Homo sapiens: one gene and its partners. The protein of the gene in region 1 purifies or fractionates together with the protein of each later gene. This does not show direct contact. Each region holds a gene or a part of one and is shown in the gene's direction. Other genes may lie near its edges.

What was found. The genes of interacting proteins can lie anywhere in the genome.
Region 2: the proteins of WDR4 (region 1) and RNF138 purify together in Homo sapiens (affinity purification with mass spectrometry; 2 studies listed by BioGRID and IntAct, with this or other methods). This does not show direct contact.
Region 3: the proteins of WDR4 (region 1) and ALG12 purify together in Homo sapiens (affinity purification with mass spectrometry; 2 studies listed by BioGRID and IntAct, with this or other methods). This does not show direct contact.

What each region holds. Positions count from the first base shown.
Region 1 is NC_000021.9:42,855,513-42,862,539, reverse strand, and holds part of WDR4 (tRNA (guanine-N(7)-)-methyltransferase non-catalytic subunit WDR4), read left to right. Parts: intron 1-145; coding exon 146-258; intron 259-2,817; coding exon 2,818-2,878; intron 2,879-6,759; coding exon 6,760-6,858; intron 6,859-7,027. UniProt on the Homo sapiens protein: Non-catalytic component of the METTL1-WDR4 methyltransferase complex required for the formation of N(7)-methylguanine in a subset of RNA species, such as tRNAs, mRNAs and microRNAs (miRNAs).
Region 2 is NC_000018.10:32,122,847-32,129,873, forward strand, and holds part of RNF138 (E3 ubiquitin-protein ligase RNF138), read left to right. Parts: intron 1-671; coding exon 672-728; intron 729-1,887; coding exon 1,888-1,999; intron 2,000-3,846; coding exon 3,847-3,954; intron 3,955-6,272; coding exon 6,273-6,341; 3' UTR 6,342-7,027. UniProt on the Homo sapiens protein: E3 ubiquitin-protein ligase involved in DNA damage response by promoting DNA resection and homologous recombination.
Region 3 is NC_000022.11:49,901,439-49,908,465, reverse strand, and holds part of ALG12 (dol-P-Man:Man(7)GlcNAc(2)-PP-Dol alpha-1,6-mannosyltransferase), read left to right. Parts: intron 1-521; coding exon 522-745; intron 746-3,959; coding exon 3,960-4,129; intron 4,130-4,211; coding exon 4,212-4,287; intron 4,288-4,399; coding exon 4,400-4,628; 3' UTR 4,629-7,027. UniProt on the Homo sapiens protein: Mannosyltransferase that operates in the biosynthetic pathway of dolichol-linked oligosaccharides, the glycan precursors employed in protein asparagine (N)-glycosylation.

The sequences.
Region 1 (7,027 bases):
GAGGGGAGGAGCCACGCTGGTCTGTCCTCGAAGGCCTCATCCTCTTGGCGGCCAGGCTGCAGCTTCCCTGCCTTCTTCCATGAGGGACTTGATTCGGGAAGACTCAGGTGAGCGGCTTTTTCTTTTCTGGCCCCTGGTGATGCAGGCTGTGAGTCCTGATGACCGCTTCATCCTCACTGCCGACCGGGACGAGAAGATCCGAGTCAGCTGGGCCGCGGCGCCCCATAGCATCGAGTCCTTCTGCTTGGGGCACACAGAGTGAGTGCCCCTTCCTGCCCCTCCAGCAGAAAGAAGGTCTGTTTGAAAACAGCGTCAGCTTGCGGCTCAGCAGGTGCCGTTGTAGCTGGCGAGGCCCCACGCGGGTGACAGCAGCCCCCGTGCTTGGTGTTTGGTCACTGCAGGCGCCGTGGTGCTGCCTGCAGAAGCCCTGAAAGGGTGGGGTTCACTCTGCGCTGTTACCCGGAGTCTGTGCCAGTAACTTGGCATTGGGCCTGACCGAACAGGAAGGGCTTGTTTCCGGGAAACCCCTGTCTCAGTGTGGAGACCCCTGCACCATGCCCGGGAGTTGTTCGCTGGTGGGTGGTGGGGGTGTTGGGGGCGAGGATGAACTTTAGTGATTTCAGCTGTCCAAGAATTAAGCGGCCTCTGCAGCCAGGTGGCGGCGTCTCTCGTGGCAGCACACTCTGCCAGGACCCATGTGGAGGTGTTTCTGAATGCCCGCTCCTGTCTCACACAAAAAGCTCATTAGAATTTACACAAAGGAAAAACGCTTAGTGTAATTGGCTGAAATGTTTTAAAATATATTATTTGAGGCAGTGGAAGAAATTGGAGGGAGGAAATTCAGTGCCGAGGTTGCCTGTGTTTTCCTGGTTTTGATCCAAACATTTCCTGTTTAAGAAGGCCAGTCACTGGTGTGTGCCTCAGGATAGCTTCTTCTGACTTGCATTTAGTTCGCTAGTGATCCAGCTCTGGAGTTCTCTGGCCTGCAGCCCCCCGGCCCCTCCCCTTCACCATCTCTCGCTGGGGTCTCTGCAGCTCCCTTGCCTCGCCAGGCACGTGAGGGAGGTTTCTGCTGACGGGAACACGCTTCTCACCCTTCTAGGGAAATGCTTCATCACTTAGAAGTATTGAGTAAAAACATAGTATTAAAATTAACTTCAACTGCTCCCTCCCTCCCTCCCTTCCTTCCCCCCTCCCCACCCCACCCTTCCCCTCCCTTCCTTTCTTTTCTCTTTCTTAGCTGTGTCGCCCAGGCTGGAGTGCAGTGGCGTGATCTTGGCTCACTGCAACCTCTGCCTTCCAGGTTCAAGCGATTCTCCTGCCTCAGCCTCCCAAGTAGCTGGGACTACAGGCCCCTGCCACCACGCCCGGCTAATTTTTTTTTGTATTTTTAGTAGAGACGAGGGTTCACTATGTTGGCCAGGCTGGTCTTGATCTCCTGACCTCATGATTCGCCCGCCTCGGCCTCCCACAGTGCTGGGATTACAGGCGTGAGCCACCGTGCCCGGCCTGCCCGTTTACTTTTCAACATAGTGGCTGGCAAATTGAAAACAAAGCCCCGTGGCCCCTGTGTGTGGCTGGAGGTGTGTTTCTGCTGGATGTGCTGTTCTGTGCCCTTTGCTGACATTGCAGTATCAGTTGGTTCACTGGCCGTCTCCCGCTGCGTCTGAGTGGTTCTGTGGGTCTGTTGGGCCTGTTGGTGTGTGCAGCCCTCAGCGTGGTGCCTGGCATGAGTAGGTGCTCAGTAGATAACTGCAGTGATTGGACGAATTATGTTTTGAGATTTTGTTTCAGACCCCTGGAAACTGGTTTCCCGGCCTTTCAAACCGTTGAGAACTGTGAGGCCACTCGTGCCCTCTGCACGGGGCGTCCTGTGCCCTATCTGTCCTGGGCTGTGGGCTGCTGTTGGTGCTGTGGTGCCGTGCAGGGCGGTGGCTGCGGGACCGGGCCCGGCTCACGCGATGGCTAGCCCAAGGTAGCAGAGGCCATGACTGGTGGAGATGGAGTGAGGCTCACGGGCCACCCCATTCCAGGGTCCCCGGGAACCCCGTGCATGAGGGATTGCTTGAGGCCACTGTGTTAGAGTGGGAAGAAAAGGGGCCTTGTCACCCTTGTAGGTGCCCGAGCCAAGATGGGTTTCCAGGCGAGCTGGGCTGCTTGGGTTATTCTTCATGGCTGTTCTGATGGGAGGGTCCCTGTGACTTTGAGTCCTGTGCTTGCAGGCCAACCCCTCACAGGAGGACTGGGCCGGGCTCAGCAGAGACAGCTGTCTGGCCAGGTCACTCAGAGTTGTTGCTGAGGGGCCGTCAGGACCCTGATAGGAACCTGTGGGCTTGGCTGCCCTCCTCCCTCCACCCTCCTCCCTGTGTGCTGTGTCTTTGAGTCTCCCCCGTGTCTTTGAGTCTCCCCCAAGGCTCCTTTCATCACAGTGCAGGTGCCTTGGGCCAGGGTGGGTGCTGGGGGGCCTGTAGAGGTGCCGCTGAGCAGAGCTGCTGCAGAGGGGGCTGCAGAGGGGCACAGAGGCGCTTGGGTCTCTGGCAGGCATGGCTGAGGAGCGGCCTGGGTTAGAGGTTGCTGTGCTGTTGGGGACCCAGGAATGACCTCACTCACCTCCCCGACTGCGTCCAGGGGCCTCCACCTGGTTAACCCTAACCAGGTTAGGGTTAACAGCTACTTCCCATGTTGGCTGTTTTTATTGGATCAGGGGGTTTAGGGCAGAGGCTTCTCTTCCTTAGATGAACAGGCGGCCTCCCCAGGCCTCCCGGTCCCTGCGGGCGCTGGGCTCGCTGACTCTGCCGCTCTCTCTCGCCCTCACAGGTTTGTGAGCCGTATCTCCGTGGTGCCAACTCAGCCCGGGCTGCTTCTGTCCTCCTCTGGGGTAAGTGTTCTGCCCAGCGTCACTCACCTCTGGATTCTTGAGCCTGCAGGGAGGGTGGGGTGGGCGCCTCCTGGACCTGGCCCCTGTGGATCGCTGGCCCCTGGCTGGCTGTGGCTGTCCACTAGATCTTAGAGCTGCCTGCGGCTCGCTCCCCGCCTGCGGCCGCTCACTCAGGACTGCGTGTGGGGTGTGCGTAGGTGCGTGTGTGTTCGCCTGTGGGATGAACTAGCACGGGTGTGTGGAAGGCTCCCTTCTGAGGGCGGCTGCTGCATCTACGATGGTATCGGGGATCAGGATCTCAGGTAGAAACAGTAGACGGGGGCTTCTCTGACTCTTGGAGGGGTCTCAGTCCATCCCATTACGGGCTGCATTTTTTTTCCTTTTCTTTCCTTTTTTTCTTTCTTTCTTTTTTTTTAAGATGGGGTGTTGCTACATTTTTCAGGCTGGTTTCAAACTCCTGGGCTCAAGCGATCTGCCTCCTTGGCCTCCCAAGTAGCTGGGACCACAGGCTCGAGCGCCCGCACCCGGGTTACCACAGTGCATTTTTGCTTGTTGGGTACAGCTTCTGTGTCCCAGCAATTGGGTCCTGGAAGCCTTACAGTTTAGTGATGAGAGACGTGTTTTCTCTAAGGAATGTGTTAGAAGGATTGTTAGTGATTTTGCCAAAGTGAGGGCCTTGGATTCCTCACAGGGTCTGATTCTGTCCTCTTGCGGAATTGTTGCCCGCACACCACCACCTTCCTCTTCGCTGTCCTTCCCTGTGTTGTCTGTGTTGGTCCTTTGTGTGGTGTGGCAGGATGGCTGATGGACCTTCTGGCCGCTTCTATGTTTCTTCTCTGATTGGGCTTCATTCACAGCCTCCTGTTCCTGCTCTTCAAATTAACACACAGCCACGCGACCTGAGAGAAGAAGAAAAGTGTGGCCATAATCTCCAGAGGGTCAGGGTCAGGGTCAGGCTTCGTCAGCGGTTTGTTGTGCACCTTCCAGTCTTTTTCATAATATGAGGAAAATCTTCCACGGGCAGAGAAGCCTCCCCAGGCCCCATCTGTCCCTCATGGCTTACTGCTTTGTTTGAGTGGAACACGTCATCTGGTAGCTGCCAAAAGGCGCGAGGAGGGTCAGTGTTTTCTGACTTTGCTTTTCTGGAAATACCTTTAATCTCCTTTGAGGCCTGGTTGTTAGTTTGGCGTAGAAGTCCTGGTTGAAACGGTTTCCCTCGGAGCTTGGGAGGCCTTGCACAGTGTGCTCTCCAGCTGGTTGCTCCTGTGGGTTTTCCCGCGCGCTTCCTGTAGAAACCTGCAGCTGTCTGCCGTGGGTCCGTGGGGTGACAGCTGGGCTCTCCTTCTGCCTGGAGGACTTTCTCTGCTCCAGTGTGCGATGTGAAAGCCACTGAGGTGACTTGGTGGGCCCCAGAGGGGAGTTGGCCACACAGCCAGTGATTTTCAGTGTCCTCCGACCTGGGGCATTTTCTTACATGATTACCTTCTGTTCTCTACCCCTGCCTCTTGCTCACTTTTTCTAAAGCTTGTGTTAGTTGAACCACTTTAATGCTCTGATTCTTATTTTTTTTGAGACAGAGTCTTGCTCTGTCTCCCAGTCTGGAGTGCAGTGGCGTGATCTCGGTTCACTGCAGCCTCTGCCTCCCGGGCTCAAGCAATCCTCCCACCTCAGGCCTCCCGAGTAGCTAGTATTACAGGCACACACCACCATGCCCCGCTAATTTTTTATACTTTTGTAGTGATGGGGTTTTGCCAGCTTGGCCAGGCTGGTCTCAAACTTTTGACCTCAAGCGATCCACCCACTTCCGCCCACTGGGATTATAGGCGAGAGCCACCATGCTGGGCCATAATTCTCTGTTTTTTTTTCTTTCCTGTTCAATCTCGTATTTCTACTCCTTTAGGAATAGTCTTACTTCTTGGGAGATTGCCTCAACTTTACTTTCCAGCCTTCTGTGGAGACTTGAGTTTTATTAGGATTATTTTGAATCTTTAGTTCTTTCTTGCCCTCGGCACGTTCTTTTTTGCAGCCACCCATTCTCGGATAGTGCACGTGTCTCTTATCTCACTGAGATGAGCGTGGACTTTTCTTTCTTCAATTTCTTCCTGGCCTTGTGTTTGATTGCCTTCTCTGGAGTGTGTTGTCTGCCTTTCTCATTGGAGGTTTTCCTCGGATGTCTGGCGATGCCATCTGCCTGTGTGTGATGGGAGTCAGCACCAGCCGGCCTCAGAGGCTGGGTGTGTGCACCCAGGGTGGGGCCCGAGGGGCTTCAGAGCAGGTGTCTGTGGGCAGCAGCCCCTTGCCTGTGGACTCCGTAGAACGTGTGGGTCAGTCGGTCTCTTCTGGGTGGTCAGTGTCCCGGCCTTCACTCTTGCCCAGGTCTGTCCCCTGGGGCTCTGGGAGGTGAGTGCGAAGGGGCTAGGTGACTCTCTTCTCAGTGAGTATTTGGCATCCCCGAGACAGGGGCCCCTCGGCTCCGTTTCCCCAGAGCCTTCTGCTGGCCTGGAGTTTGGGGCTGAGGATGCATCAGGGAGGTCCCGTTTCTCTTTGTAAAGACATTTGACAGCTCCCCTCACCACCTTGGTCTTCAGGCTGCCTGGCCCGGTTTGGTCTTTGGCAGGTCCTGGCACCTCTCGGGCTTCTCTGTGGCTGGTGCATTTGTTCCCTGGCCTCCAGCCCCCAGGTTTCCTTGCTGTCTCTCCGCGGCTGCCTTCTCTTCTTGCCTGTTGTCTTTGTCTTAGTGGGTTCATGGTTATTAAACATCTTTTTCTTGTCTTCGTAGAGAGGTTTGGGGGTGAGTGAAATGCCTGTAGATGTGTGTGTTGGTCTCCATGTTTATCTGCCACATTTGTAGAAAGGTGTGTGTGTGTGCGTGTGTATGTGCATGCGTGTGTGTGTGCATTCATACATCCACTCTTACCTCGGCACCCAGAGGATATGCATCTACTGTTAGCTGTTTGGGGTATTTACTTTTCATCTTTTTCATTTAGTCATTTAAAAATACTTACAAATAGTGCACAGACACTCTCTCATTAGATTTAATGAGTATTGATTTATTTCTCTCCACTGAATTAGTGCTGTAATGAATTTTTTTTAAGCCAGGTATGGTGGCTCATGCCTGTAGTCCCAGCTACTCGGAGGCTGAGGCGGGAGGATTGCCTGGGCCTGGGAGTCAGAGGCTGCAGTGAGCCAGGAGCAAGCCTGTGAATAGCCACTGCAGTGCAGTGGGCAGTGTGGAATAGACCCCATTTCAATTAAACAACAAAAAAATAACAACAGATAAAACCAAGAAAAAAAAGAGAAACGCTTTTTTCCATTGATGATGGTTTTAGAGCGTGGAGCCTCTTGGTTCCTGTGTCGGCTTCCTGAAGGGTTGTACCAGTTGTCGTGGGACGGTTGCTGATGGCCATGTCCTTCCTGTCATTCTTAGTGAAGTGGAGCAGTGGCCACGAGCTCATGAGCCCACACGTGTCTCCCCGTGGGAATGCATGATTGCTGAAGTGTCTGCGCAGACCTGTGTGCATGCCCGTGTCTATGCCCGGCCCGGGCACAGCAGATGTGGTCTGGCCTCCTGGCGGATGACAACCTGGCCATCTAGCGGCCTTGGCTTATTTTGCTAGGATCTGCCTCATTGGCTTTGTCATCTGCCTGGGCATATTGGCACTCGAGAAACAGGGAATCGGTCACCTTCCGTTCCCCACCGTTGTCCTTGATGATTTGCATGAGCGATTTACACAGTCAGAGCAGAGAGCCTTTAATTCCTGAGGGTGGGTGGCATGGCTGTCACGGAGTGGAACCCCGACCACACGCAGCTGTCCTCTCTGTCACCCTACCTGACGGAAGCCCCACAACCATGTGCTAACCTGTGTGTTTGGTTTGTGCAGGACGGCACCCTGAGGCTCTGGGAGTACAGGAGCGGCCGCCAGCTGCACTGCTGTCACCTGGCCAGTCTGCAGGAGCTGGTGGACCCCCAGGCCCCCCAGGTAGCTGCTTCTGTTCACTCCTGGGCGACTGAGTGCTTGTAGACACCGGCAGTCGCCTGACTTGAGTGGAAAAGTCACTTCGCCGTTGGAAACGTTTGCTCTCAATGCCAGACTTCCTCCTGTGTGAGGGAAATCTCGTATTTCAAATTCTGAAGGTGGCTCGTCATGT
Region 2 (7,027 bases), on another chromosome or scaffold:
AAATAAAATTGACCACATTGATCAAATTCTGTAGCACACAGGTGACGGTCCCTGTATGGAATACTTACTCTTCCCTCAGGATTCCTCTGATATTCCATGTGACACATGACTCTCTGGCATATGGTAAAAGTGGAGATGTTAAGTTGTTCTGTATATTAAATGTTAGTGAAGCCTGGTTTCTTTCCTTTCTGGAAATAAAATACAAACATAATGAACATTTACATATTTTCTTAAATTACTGCACTTTGGAGGGCATAACCTTATACCATGTCCTAGTTTGAAGTAAAAAAGTTCACAAATTCTTGAGTCTACCGTAGCATTTAAAACCTTACTAGTCTAGGTAAAGGTAGAGGAATGGGATTTAAGGTAATTCTGCAAAATTCTCTATACTTCTGTAACTGTGCATAAGTTAATTTTAAAGAACATAAATAAGAATCTAGTAAGCAGTCAATTTATTTAAAAGTAATTAATATTGTAATTATTTCATAGTTCAGAACCATTTGAAGTTCAAATTTTGTTTTTTCAAGGACCCAATAGGAAAAAGGTGTATTGAAGTTCAGACTTTTAAAACAAATTCAGACTAGTCTTCTTCATTAATGGTTCAAGATAATGAACCTTTAGTGTGTTTTCATTACTTTGAGGTATTAACTTTTTCCCCTGTGCTTCTTAAGCAATAGGAGTGAAACATCCACATCTGATAACACAGAAACTTACCAAGAGAATACAAGGTAAGCTTTTGAAAAATCCTGCCACTTTAGCAAGTAATATTATATTTATCACTTATCAAATAGCTTTTTAAATTAAACTTTTTTTTTTTTTTTTTGAGACGGAGTCTCACTTTGTTTTCCCAGGCTGGAGTGCAGTGGTGCGATCTTGGCTCACTGCAACCTGCGCCTCTCAGGTTCAAGTGATTCTCCTGCCTCAGCCTCCCAAGTATCTGGTATTACAGGTGCCTGCCACCACGCCCGGCTAATTTTTGTATTTTTAGTAGAAACAGGGTTTCACCATGTTGGCCAGGCTGGTCTCGAACTCCTGACCTCAGATAATCCACCTGCCTTGGCCTCCCAAAGTGCTGGGATTACAGGCATGAGCCACTGCGCCTGGCCATAAATTAAACTTAAAAAAAAAAAAAAAATCAGTTACATCATTAGGCATAGTGTTTGAAGTTAGCAGTTTAGAAATAGAAAATGCAGTTACTGCTTTTAAGAATCACATTAGGTTAGAAGAGTTTAGTTATTCTCTTTCACTGTGGTCAGGTTTCTTCCACACACGATTCAGGTAAAGTTGTCTGTGTTGAACTGTCCCTTCCTGAAATTCAGAAGTATTAAAACTCAGTGATGCTTGATCCTCAGAATGTTTTCGAGTATTTCATTCTCATGATCAGTGCTTTTGTTTTTTCTTTTCCTTTGAATTTTGGATGTTGGATTCCTAGGGCCTGGTATTTATTAGAGATACGATATTGATGGAAGTCTTTTAGAAGTTTTAAGTTCCTAGATAAAAGGTTTGCAAAATGTGGAATACTACAGAATATTAAAAATTTTCAAGGGACATACAGTGACAGCTATTGGCATCAGAAAACAACTACAATTAAGTTTGGACCTAACTACATAATATATGGAGTCAGCTAGGTTTTTGTTTTTGTTTTTGTTTTGGCCTAGAGGTGCCATGAAAAAATTTATTGAGGACACTAAGAGTACTGTAAACTGAGATTGGGAACCTCTGTAATGCATCATTTCCTGAATACATATGTTCAAAATGAGAGAATCTTTGAATAGTCTAATAATTATAACTTTTTTAAAAAATGTATAGTGATTCCTCAAAAAATAGGAGAGCGTTATTTTTGTGTTATTCTGAATTAAGTATGTTTCACTTAAAATTGTTTTATAGTTCTTCTGGTCATCCTACTTTTAAGTGTCCCCTGTGTCAAGAATCAAATTTTACCAGACAGCGTTTACTGGATCACTGTAACAGTAATCACCTATTTCAGATAGTTCCTGTGGTAAGTACATACGTTTGAGACAGTCTTCTGCTTAGAATAAAACATGCTGTTCTATTTATTTCACTTCATGTATGCAAGAGAAAGTAGTTGATTTATATTTGGTTGGGGCATTATCAGTAAGGTAGATTTTTGTCAACAAAGGATTGATGACTGTGAAGCAAAATGAGATATTTAAAATTGCAGTAACTCTCATTATAAAAAGGGAGATGCATAGTGTGAGGTAATATAGCACAGTCTGGAGAAGAGTGAAGTAATGAAAGATGAACCGGGAACTCATTCCTGCGCAGTAGCACAACCTGTCTATTGAGGCCTCAGTTACTTGCTCTGTAGATGGCAGACAAGTAGATCTAGTCAGGTAGATTGCTGTAGGTGAAAATACCTGTAAGTAAGAATAAAGTCAGTAGGTATTTTTATTGTTTTCTTGCAGCATATAGTATGTGAATGCATAAAGCAAGGAAGGAAAAGACTTAGACTTTGTATTTGATGCCTACATATTTTTTGACATTTTGAGGGTATGTAAGAAAATGGTGAGAGCTTTTTGATAATGAGGGAGATAGAGCAGAATTCAGGATTCCAACATATAATGATCCTAGAAGTGTTTCATAGGTAAGTTATTTCAGCTGTGAATGGAACAGGAGAAACTGAGCTGGGAGAGAGATTTCCCTTTCAGCTGAACATTTTGATATATAAATAATTGTCTTCAGAAAGGAGAATAGGAAGGAAAATGTTATCAATAAGAACTGTAGATATTTCTAAGCTGTTTTAGTGAGTATGCTAGGAAAAGTTGTGAAAGAATGTGCTTCAGGACCGGGCACGGTGGCTCATGCCTGTAATTTAGCACTTTGGGAGGCCGAGAGGGGAGGATTGCTTGAGCCCAGGAGTTCGAGACTAGCCTGGGCAACATAGTGAGACCCTGTCTATTTAAAAATAAAGAAAATAAAAAGAATATGCTTCAATAACCATTGAGGATGACCTTAAGCTCTCACATACCACCTAAGAAGGTGTACTACCTACTTTGCTTATTAGAATGGGTTCAGTTATGCTTAAATAGACAAATACAGTGCCAAAGATGTTCCAGGAAATCTCGCTCATATTTAAGATTTTACTTAGTTTTATATTGGATTACCAAATTTTTATTCATTTCTGCATAATATTCGATATATCATAAACTTTGGCTAGAGTTTAATTACTGAAGGTTTTTTGTGTGTTATTTCAGTTATTTATCCATTCAGTTTTTAAGATGTACTTCATTTAAACGTAAGGATATGGCTGGGTGTGGTGGCACATGCCTTTAATCCCAGCACTTTGGGAGGCCAAGGCGGGAGGATTGCTTGAGCTCAGGAATTTGAGACCCAGCCTGGACAACAGTGAGACTGTGTCTCTAGTTTTAAGAAAAGAAAAGAAAAACTAAGGATACAATTTAAAGTAAATTTTCCAGTTTACTTCATTTTTATTTTACTTACAAATGAAATAAAACTAATAATAATTATATGGTTATTGTATGGATCAAATGAGATAATATATTGGATATGTTGCAGGCAGCCAGTTAGTGATAACTGTCATTACAGTTGGTATTATTAAAAGCTAGATGTGGTTTTTCTGTTGAAACATTTGTGTAATAAGAGATTTAAGGAATAGAATGTCTAAGATTTCTCACTGTGTTAGATTAATGTCATTTATCTAAGGTAATTGATTGGGAAATGATCTAGTCATGGAACTTGGCCTTTAAAAATGCTTCTCACGTAGATATTTTTGGTAACATATCCCTGTGTTATTTTAATACTGTCAATTGTATAATATTTCATTGTTTTTATTATTTTTTGTTTAAAACAATCTGTTTCTTATAGACATGTCCTATTTGTGTGTCTCTTCCTTGGGGAGATCCTAGCCAGATTACCAGAAATTTCGTTAGTCATCTAAATCAGAGACATCAATTTGATTATGGAGAATTTGTGGTAAGTGAATTCTTCAAGATTAAGAAAGTACTGTTTAAATATTAAAGTTAAAATAACTTTTTTGTAATCGACTTAAATTTTGTGGCAAGCTGTTGTATCTTACTGGATGGATTTAGAGCAAGTTCTTAGGTTTTTAATAATACTGGTGAACTTTAGCTTGTAGAAATGGTAAGGTAAAAATTGAGTTTACTCTCCACCTCCTGTACTAGAGAGAGAATTAATAAGAGTAACAGCAAGCACCCAGATTAACAAAATGATGATTTACATGAAAACTCTGTCAAGATTTAAGGGAAAATTGTACCTACAAGAGAAGTAAAATTGGTACAACATATGGAGGATGTATTTCTCATGTAGTATAAGTTGCTTGTATTATGCTAGAAATCTTAGATTTCTCAAATCTAGCATGTAAGACACAACGTTTTTAAAAATGAGGGAGCTTAGTTATCAGGCAAAGCCAGGTTACAAAGAGACTAAGAGTGTAAGAGAAGTTATATAATGTAAAAATGAATTCATAAAGCAAAATGGATTAATTTGTACTTCTAAATGTGTGATATACTTTTTTAATTAGGTGAAAACCTGTTTTATTAATTATTAAATTGCATTTTATTCAACTTCAGTTTAATCAAAACTTTATTTAAGATTAGTCCTGACAAAGAATGGCTATTTGTTTTCCAGTTTAGGTAAGCAGAGTGACATGAACAAAATATACATTTTTGTCTGCCTTCCAGTGTTGAAATTACATCATTCTTGTTAAATGGTTTTTAAATTTTGTAGAATTTGCATTATTTAGCCAATTTCAAAATAAAAATTCAAATATATGTAAAATTTAGGTGCGCTTTATTGCTTTAGCAATTTTATAAAGTAATTCTAGATTATTATTAAATTCTCATTGTAAGAAAGATTGCTATGTAATGTATTTGGAAATACAAAAATTTGTGAACCACTTTTGATCTAATTGTCAAGTTGTTTTATCTTGCCATAGAAAAGTAGGTAATCTAGGCAGGGCTTGGTGGCTCACACCTGTAATCCCAGCACTTTGGGAGGCCGAGGTGGGTGGATCACAAGGTCAGGAGATTGAGACCATCCTGGCTAACACGGTGAAACCCCGTCTTTACTAAAAATACAAAAAGTTAGCCGGGTGTGTTGGCAGGTGCCTATAGTCCCAGCTACTCGGGAGGCTGAGGCAGGAGAATGGGATGAACCCGGGAGGCAGAGCTTGCAGTGCGTGAAGATCACGCCACTGCACTCCAGCCTGGGTGACAGTGCGAGACTCCGTCTCAAAAAAGAAAAGTAGGTGATCTAATTATTTCAGATTGTCAAATAGAGGCCTTGATTTTAAAGCGAAATGCATAGGGCATAAAATTGATAGCAAATATAATTTTTTAAATTAAGGAGTAGTTTTATAACGATTGAATAAGCTGTAGGCTTCATGTTATGGTTAAGAATTTATTACTCATCTGGGCATGATGGCTCATGCCTGTCATCCCAGTACTGTGGGAGGCCGAGGCGGGTGGATCACCTGAGGTCAGCAGTTCAAGACCAGCCTGGCCAACATGGCAAAACCCTGTCTCTACTAAAGATACAAAAATTAGCTGGGTGTGGTGGTACGTATCTGTAATCCTAGCTACTTGGCAGGCTGAGGCACAAGAATTGCTTGAGCCCAGGAGGTGGAGGTTGCAGTGAGCCAAGATTGTGCCACTGCACTCCAGCCTGAGTGACAGAGCCAAACTGCCCCCCAAAAAATTTCTTACTCAACTCATAATTCAATAAATGCTTGTTTTCTTAAAATCAGTTTACTGTCAGATATTTGGCATTATTTTCTAGAGATGACACATTTATGATTGTGTGTTATGATTAACTTCAGTTTTATTTTTCATTTTTTATTTTTATTTTTTAAAGTGACAGTCTCCCTGTGTTGCCCAGGCTGACCTCAAACTCATAGGCTCAAACTGTCTTCTGCCTCAGCCTCCTGAATAGTTGCAACTACAGGCGCATGCTTACCCAGCTTTCCAGTTAACCATATTTTTTATGAATGACTTATAAAGGCATTATAACACTCAAATTTTGTTCTGTGATGATCCTCTCTGTTTGTTTGTTATTCTTGAACAGTTACAACTGAACTTAATGTCTTATTAAAGTTCAGGTATTCAAATCTTGTATCTTAAAAGATACTGTTATATATGTTTTACATAACTGTCCTGAGTGTGTGTAATGTGTGTCAAGATGTGTAATGTGTATCAAGATGTCTAATGTTTTGGGCAAAGTATTAGAGTAGTTGAATATGTTTTTCCTGTTGACATGAATGTTATTGTTTTTAGAATCTTCAGCTAGATGAAGAAACCCAATACCAAACTGCTGTTGAAGAATCTTTTCAAGTAAACATCTGAAGGCTGTAGACATCTCTGCATCTTTGTACCTGCAAGTGCCATCTTTAAGGGGGAAACTACATGAAGTCACCGTTACAGTAACTTGATGTGTATATTAATAAAAGTAATTCAGTCATTTTAGTTTTTGATTGAAAATAAAGGTAGGGCTTCTAAAAACTTCATCATCTTGATAAGTTAAAAAATGAAAGTTATGACATTAGCTTTAAAGGTGTAAAAAAGATGTTTCACTAATGTAACGGTGAAAGAGAATCCCTGTTGTACTTTATCTTTTTGTAATATTATTTTTGAATTTTTCATTATTATGTTGCTTTTGAAATTTGATGCATTCCTCCCATTTACTTTATTATTGTACACATTTAACACACAGTAGCAAATTTTGAACGATGTGATTGATATAACCTAACAAATCTGAGCCAGTTATTATTAGAGTTGCAGAATAGAAACTTGAAGTGCTAAATGGAATAATCCAAAGGAAATTTTTTAAATGCAGGTTCTAGCTGAAAAATTCAACTATAAGAAAATTGTATTTATATAACATTTACTATTTTTGAAGACTAGTGAGATTTCTGTAATAATTTTAATTCTTTAAAAAGTGAAAGCTTGTTGTAAAGATATTTTCTTTTTGTTATTAGAAGGAAATACAAAGAGAAAAATTTCTTTCTTTCATGGGCATTTGATAATTTCAG
Region 3 (7,027 bases), on another chromosome or scaffold:
ACCTCCAACTCCCTGGTTCAAGTGATTCTCCTGCCTCAGCCTCCTGAGTAGCTGGGATTACAGGCACATGCCACCATGCCCAGCTAATTTTTGTATTTGTAGTAGAGACAGGGTTTCACCATGTTGGCCAGGATGGTCTCGATCTCTTTACCTCGTGATCTACCCACCTTGGCCTCCCGAAGTGCTGGGATTACAGACATGAGCCACTGCGCCCGGCCGACCATCTGTTTTTAACAGTGAAGAAAAGGGTACAGAGACCGAACGTCCTGTGGCCCTTGCTGCCTTGGTCCTGCCTGGAGGGGGCCCGACGCCCAAGTGGTATGTGTGCACCCGAGCTGTGGCCTGGGCTCTGTCTTTTAGGAGGGGCCTGAGGCCTGAGTGGTGTCTGTGCACACGAGCCGTGGTCCAGGCTGCATCTCTCAGCACAACTGTCTTCAAGCGTCTTCTCCACCTTGACCCTGCCACCTAGCCCACGGGCTCATGCGTGGACAGGTGCGTGGCCTCCTTAACCCAGCCCGCAGACCTCCCCGCTGCTGTGGTACTTCTACTCAGCCCTGCCCCGCGGCCTGGGCTGCAGCCTGCTCTTCATCCCCCTGGGCTTGGTAGACAGAAGGACGCACGCGCCGACGGTGCTGGCACTGGGCTTCATGGCACTCTACTCCCTCCTGCCACACAAGGAGCTACGCTTCATCATCTATGCCTTCCCCATGCTCAACATCACGGCTGCCAGAGGCTGCTCCTACCTGTGAGTGCTCTTTTTGTGACATGCATTTTTATAGTTTCATTGGAAACAGGTTCACTGATTTACTGTTGGGGGGATGTATGTGTGTGTTTAATTTTTGAAACAGGGTCTTGCTCTGTCGCCCAGCTGGAGTGGGGCTTACTGCACCCCTCAACTCCTAGGGGGTTAAGCCATCCTCCTGCCTCCTCCTCTGGAAGTGCTGGGATTGCAGGTGTGAGCCACCAGGGCTGTTTTTTAAGATAAACACAGGGTGTGTTGAACTAGGCGCTTATGTCAAAGGAGGGTGACCCCAGTCCTCTCTCCTCCCTGAGGGCTGCATGGGATGGGACCGGCCTGGCATTGTGCTGACAGAGGGCTTTGCTCAGGTGGTCTCTGTCTTGGGTTAATTTGGTGACTGGTCCACATATGGTGATGCACCAGCGGTCCCAGTCTCTGTCATGGGAGAGTGACACTCACATAGGTAGCAGCGGCAGAGGGCAGGGGCAGCCAGGCCTGGGAGGCTCTGAGGGCGACAGGTCAGGTAGAGGAAGGGCGTTCGTGGCCATCCTGACAGGGCCTCGGGCTTGAGGGCGTTTGTCAAGGCGGGTCATCTGGCTGGAAGAGGGGGATGGTGAGGGAGGTGCCTATGGCTGGGTGCAGAGGGCCCAGCGTGGCCCAGGCTCAAGGTCCTGTGGAGGGCAGGGGGCTTCCTGCGGGGAGGGACTGCAGGCAGCAGGTGATGGAGGTGGAGCTGGGGGCCTGGCAGGGCCTGGGGAGGGCACTGCCTGGGCTGAGGGTGGGGTGGTCTGAGCGCGGCTGCCACTCAGTGTTGCAAGCCTCAGGGAGCCAGGAGAGTCCATCACTGCCGGGCCCTGTGGGTGCTGGGGAAGGACCCGGGGCTCAGGCCCAGGAGAGTCCATCACTGCTGGCCCTGTGGGTGCTGCGGAAGAACCCAGGGCTGAGGCTGGCCAGCTCTGTGCCCGTTCAGAGTTTGCTGCCTTGATGGGAACAGGAGGCCAACTCAGGCCACGCTGGGCATTGAGGGGCGGCAGGGCTACAGGCCAGGAGGGCCGCGGCCTGGGGCATTGAGAGGTGCCCACTCTGGCTGGAGAGGAAGCCCCACAATGCGGTCCCTGATCTCAGGCAGCGGTCAGGTGCTTTCCGGTGCCACTTGTTACAGGGGAGGGGATGGTGCCCCCCAGCTCCGACTGCCCCGCACTGCCCTCGGGCCTGGGAGCTCCTCTGGCTGCCGTGACTGTTCCTCGCTGGGGGTTCCTCCGGCTGCCGTGGCCGTGCCTGGGTTGGGGGCTCCTCTGGCTGCTGTAGCCGCGCCTCAGTGGGGGCTCCTGGGAGCTCTGCCTCTGCTTTTCTGTGCCTTTGGCTCCCTCTCGTCTCAGGGGTCGGCTCAGGGCTGGAGGAGGAGCAGACCCCAGCCAGAGTCATGGAAAAGAGGGTAGGAAAGACGGGGAGAGCGGCGCGGATGGATTGTATTCGGTGACAGGCTTTTCCAGCAGGGAAGAAGATCCAGTGGGAACTGGACCCAGCTCTGTGTCTTTGAGGCCTGGTGTGCTGGGCGTGAGGGGCTGCTCCATGCAAGGGCCCCTGCTGTGCCAGTCGGCCTTATCCGGAGGAGGACAAACTTGGGGAGTCCAAATGAGGGGGTGCAGGGTAGAGCAAGGCCCCCTCCGAAGTCAGGTCCTCAGCCCGGCCACCCTGGGAGCAAGAGCAGGCCGTTTCCCACGGTGTCAGGGCCCAGGGCCTTGAGACAGTCCTGGGGGTGGAAGGTTTCTGATTGCGAGCTTTCCACAGTGACTGCCCACTCCAGGTTTGGGCGGGAACAAAGGACGAACGCCCTGGCAGTGCTGAGCTCTTTGGGGCAGGCACTTAGGAGGCTGCGGTCATCCTAGGTGGGGCCTCGAGCTCAGAAACCGCACCAGAGATTGTTCAAGGGTGCACTAGTCTGCTCTCGCACTGATGTAAAGAAACACCTGAGACTGGATAATTTATAAAGAGGAGGCTTCATTGGCTCGCGGTTCCGCAGGCTGTACGGGAAGCGTGGTACTGGTGTCTGCTCAGCTTCCAGGCTGGCCTGGGAAAACTTTCCATTATGGCGGAAGGCGAGAGGGAAGCGGGCACGCTTTTATGTGGCCAAAGCAGGACGAAGAGGGACGGGGGAGGTGTCACCCATTTTCAAACAAGCAGACCTCTCGAGAACTCACTCGGTATGAGGAGAACAGCATGGAGGGGATGGCGCTAATCCATTCCTGAGGGCTCCACCTCCATGACCCAGTCACCTCCCACCAGGCCCCACCTCCAGCATTGGGGATCACAGTTGGACATGAGATTTGGTGGGGACGCAGATCCAAACCATAGCAAAGGGCAGGGCCTGTGGAGAAGAGGGCTCCGAGGAGCCTGGTGGGTTTGGAAGAGAGTGAGTCTTGATCGGGGGTTCAGGGCGTTTAGACCAGGGTTGGCAAGCTTTTCCGTTAAGGACCAGCTAATAAAGAGCCTCATCTTCGTGGGCCACACTGTCTGTGGCAGCTGCTAACTCTGCCGTAGGATCCTGAGATTGGCATAGTCGATTGTGAGAGAACCGGCGGCACCCTGTCCCAGAGAGTTCACTCAGACCTGCTGGGAGTGGGCTTGGCCGCGCGGGTGGCACTCTGACCTACACAGTCACTTGGGATTGTTTGAAAATATATTTTTAGGCTGGGCGCAGTGGCTCATGCCTGTAATCTCAGCACTTTGGGAGGCTGAGGCGGGCAGATCACGAGGTCAGGAGTTCAAGACTAGCCTGGCCAACATAGTGAAAGCCTGTCTCTACTAAAAATACAGAAATTAGATGGGCATGGTGGCGTGCACCTGTAGTCCCAGCTACTTGGGAGGCTGAGGCAGGAGAATCACTTGAACCCAGGAGGCGGAGGTTGCAGTGAGCCGAGATCATGGCACTGCACTCCAGCCTGGGTGACACAGCGAGACTCTGTCTCAAAAATATATATATATTTTAAAATCTCATCTAAATTTTAAATTGGCATCTTGGGTAGAATTTCACAGACAATTCTTGAGGCAGTATCTTAACCACTTTTACGGGTTACTGACTCTGTTTTATTTGGTGGTGAACTCTTTGTTATGACTTGGTGAAGTTGAACAGCAGGTTATGCTCCTAGTATGTTTTGTAGGTAGATTAATTTTATTGTCATTACGTTCTGCCTATGATGTGTAACCATTCTTTTTTCAGGCTGAATAACTATAAAAAGTCTTGGCTGTACAAAGCGGGGTCTCTGCTTGTGATCGGACACCTCGTGGTGAATGCCGCCTACTCAGCCACGGCCCTGTATGTGTCCCATTTCAACTACCCAGGTGGCGTCGCAATGCAGAGGCTGCACCAGCTGGTGCCCCCCCAGACAGGTGGGTGCTGGGGGCACTGCCTGGGGACTGCTGTGGCTCCGACTGCAGGGCTGGGCTCTGACGGCAGGCCTGGTTTTCCTAGACGTCCTTCTGCACATTGACGTGGCAGCCGCCCAGACAGGTGTGTCTCGGTTTCTCCAAGTCAACAGCGCCTGGAGGTAGGATCCACACACAGCACGGCCCTCCCAGAGGCCATGTGAGGGCCCCTTGGGGGCGGGGGACAGGGCGATGTGGGGGCCCTGGGCAGGACCACCAGCTCTCATCCCACAGGTACGACAAGAGGGAGGATGTGCAGCCGGGGACAGGCATGCTGGCATACACACACATCCTCATGGAGGCGGCCCCTGGGCTCCTGGCCCTCTACAGGGACACACACCGGGTCCTGGCCAGCGTCGTGGGGACCACAGGTGTGAGTCTGAACCTGACCCAACTGCCCCCCTTCAACGTCCACCTGCAGACAAAGCTGGTGCTTCTGGAGAGGCTCCCCCGGCCGTCCTGAGGGGGACCAGGCAGCCCTCAGCAGCCACAGGCCTTCCAGGAGCTGTTATCACTACCAGTTTCTGGCACAATTCCAGCACAATTATGACAATTCAGAGAAGCAAGTCAAAGGACTGGGCACCTGCCTCTGACAGACACCAGACCAGGTCCAGGGCCTCCTCCACAGCCTCAGCTGGGGCTCTCAGCACCAAAGAACGAGGGGCCCAGGTCTTGTTGGCACCCCGGGAGCCACTGCCCAGGGTGATGGTGGCCAGCTCAGGGCTTCCTGCGGGTGACTGTCGCCCAGACCAGGTGCCATTCATGACTAATCAGGAGCAGCGGGCTCACCCAGGCACCTGTCTGCCAGGAGGCCACGTGTGTCCTGCCCACCCAGGGGGAGCTGTATTTTGGCAGCACCCCACGCTTGCTGCCCGAGGGCCTCTTGGGGCACCTAAGACAGCACCCCCTCTCAGGGGAGACCATGGTGGCCCCGGCCGCACCCCCCCACCCTGGTGCCACCACTGCAACTTTTGTATTCACAGGCATCCCATCTCCATCACAGATAAAATCTTAGGAGATAAACACATTCAAAAAGGAATGAGATAAAAAGAATAAGGCAATAAATGTTGATTGGAACCTCTCAAGATTACAGAAAATAATGAGAATGAAATTTTAAAAATGTTTCCTATGTGATAGCTTATCACAGGTGACTATTCCAGGTGTTATGGTAAAGGGACAGCTTGGTGCTGTCAGCCTCACTGACCATGCATTTATAAAGCACCAAAGTGCGTGTGATGCTGCTGGGCACTGGAGATGGGACCAGGTGCTGCTGCACACGTATGCACACACCATGCATACATGCACACACACCACACACGCATGCACACAGTGCACACGTGCACACACCATGCATACACACCACACACCGTGCACACGTGCACACACCATGCATACACACCACACACAGTGCACACGTGCACATTACCATGCATCCACACACAGTGCACACGTGCACACACTATGCATACACAGTGCACACGTGCACACACCATGCATACACACCACACACCGTGCACACGTGCACACACCATGCATACACACCACACACAGTGCACACGTGCACATTACCATGCATCCACACACAGTGCACACGTGCACACACTATGCATACACAGTGCACACGTGCACACACCATGCATACACACCACACAGTGCACACGTGCACATTACCATGCATACACAGTGCACACGTGCACACACCATGCATACACACCACACACAGTGCACACGTGCACATTACCATGCATACACACAGTGCACGCGTGCACATTACCATGCATACACAGTGCACATGTGCACACACCATGCATACACACCACACAGTGCACACGTGCACACACCATGCATACACAGTGCACACGTGCACACACCATGCATACACAGTGCACATGTGCACACACCATGCATACACACCACACACCGTGCACACGTGCACACACCATGCATACACACCACACACAGTGCACACGTGCACATTACCATGCATCCACACACAGTGCACACGTGCACACTATGCATACAGTGCACACATGCACACACCATGCATACACAGTGCACACGTGCACACACCATGCATACACACCACACAGTGCACATGTGCACACACCATGCATACACACCACACACAGTGCACACGTGCACACACCATGCATACACACCACACACAGTGCACACGTGCACATTACCATGCATACACAGTGCACACGTGCACACACCATGCATGCACACCACACACAGTGCACACGTGTACGTTACCATGCATACACACAGTGCACGCGTGCACATTACCATGCATACACAGTGCACACGTGCACACACCATGCATACACACCACACACAGTGCACACGTGCACATTACCGTGCATACACACAGTGCATGCGTGCACATTACCATGCATACACACAGTGCACACGTGCACACACCATGAATACACACCACACACAGTGCACACGTGCACACACCATGCATACACACAGTGCACACGTGCACACACCATGCATACATACCACACACAGTGCACACGTGCACATTACCATGCATACACCACGCATGCACAATGCACGTGCACACCATGCATACACACCACACATGCATCCACACACAATGCACAGATGCGCACACCATGCATACACACCATACATGCATGATCACACGTGCACACACCATACATACCCACCACGCATGCACACACACAATGCACAGGTGCACACACCATGCATACACACCACACAATGCAATCGTGCACACACAATGCACACGTGCACACACCATGCATACACACCACACAATGCAATCATGCACACAATGCACACGTGCACACACCATGCATACATACCACACATGCACACACGTGTGCATAA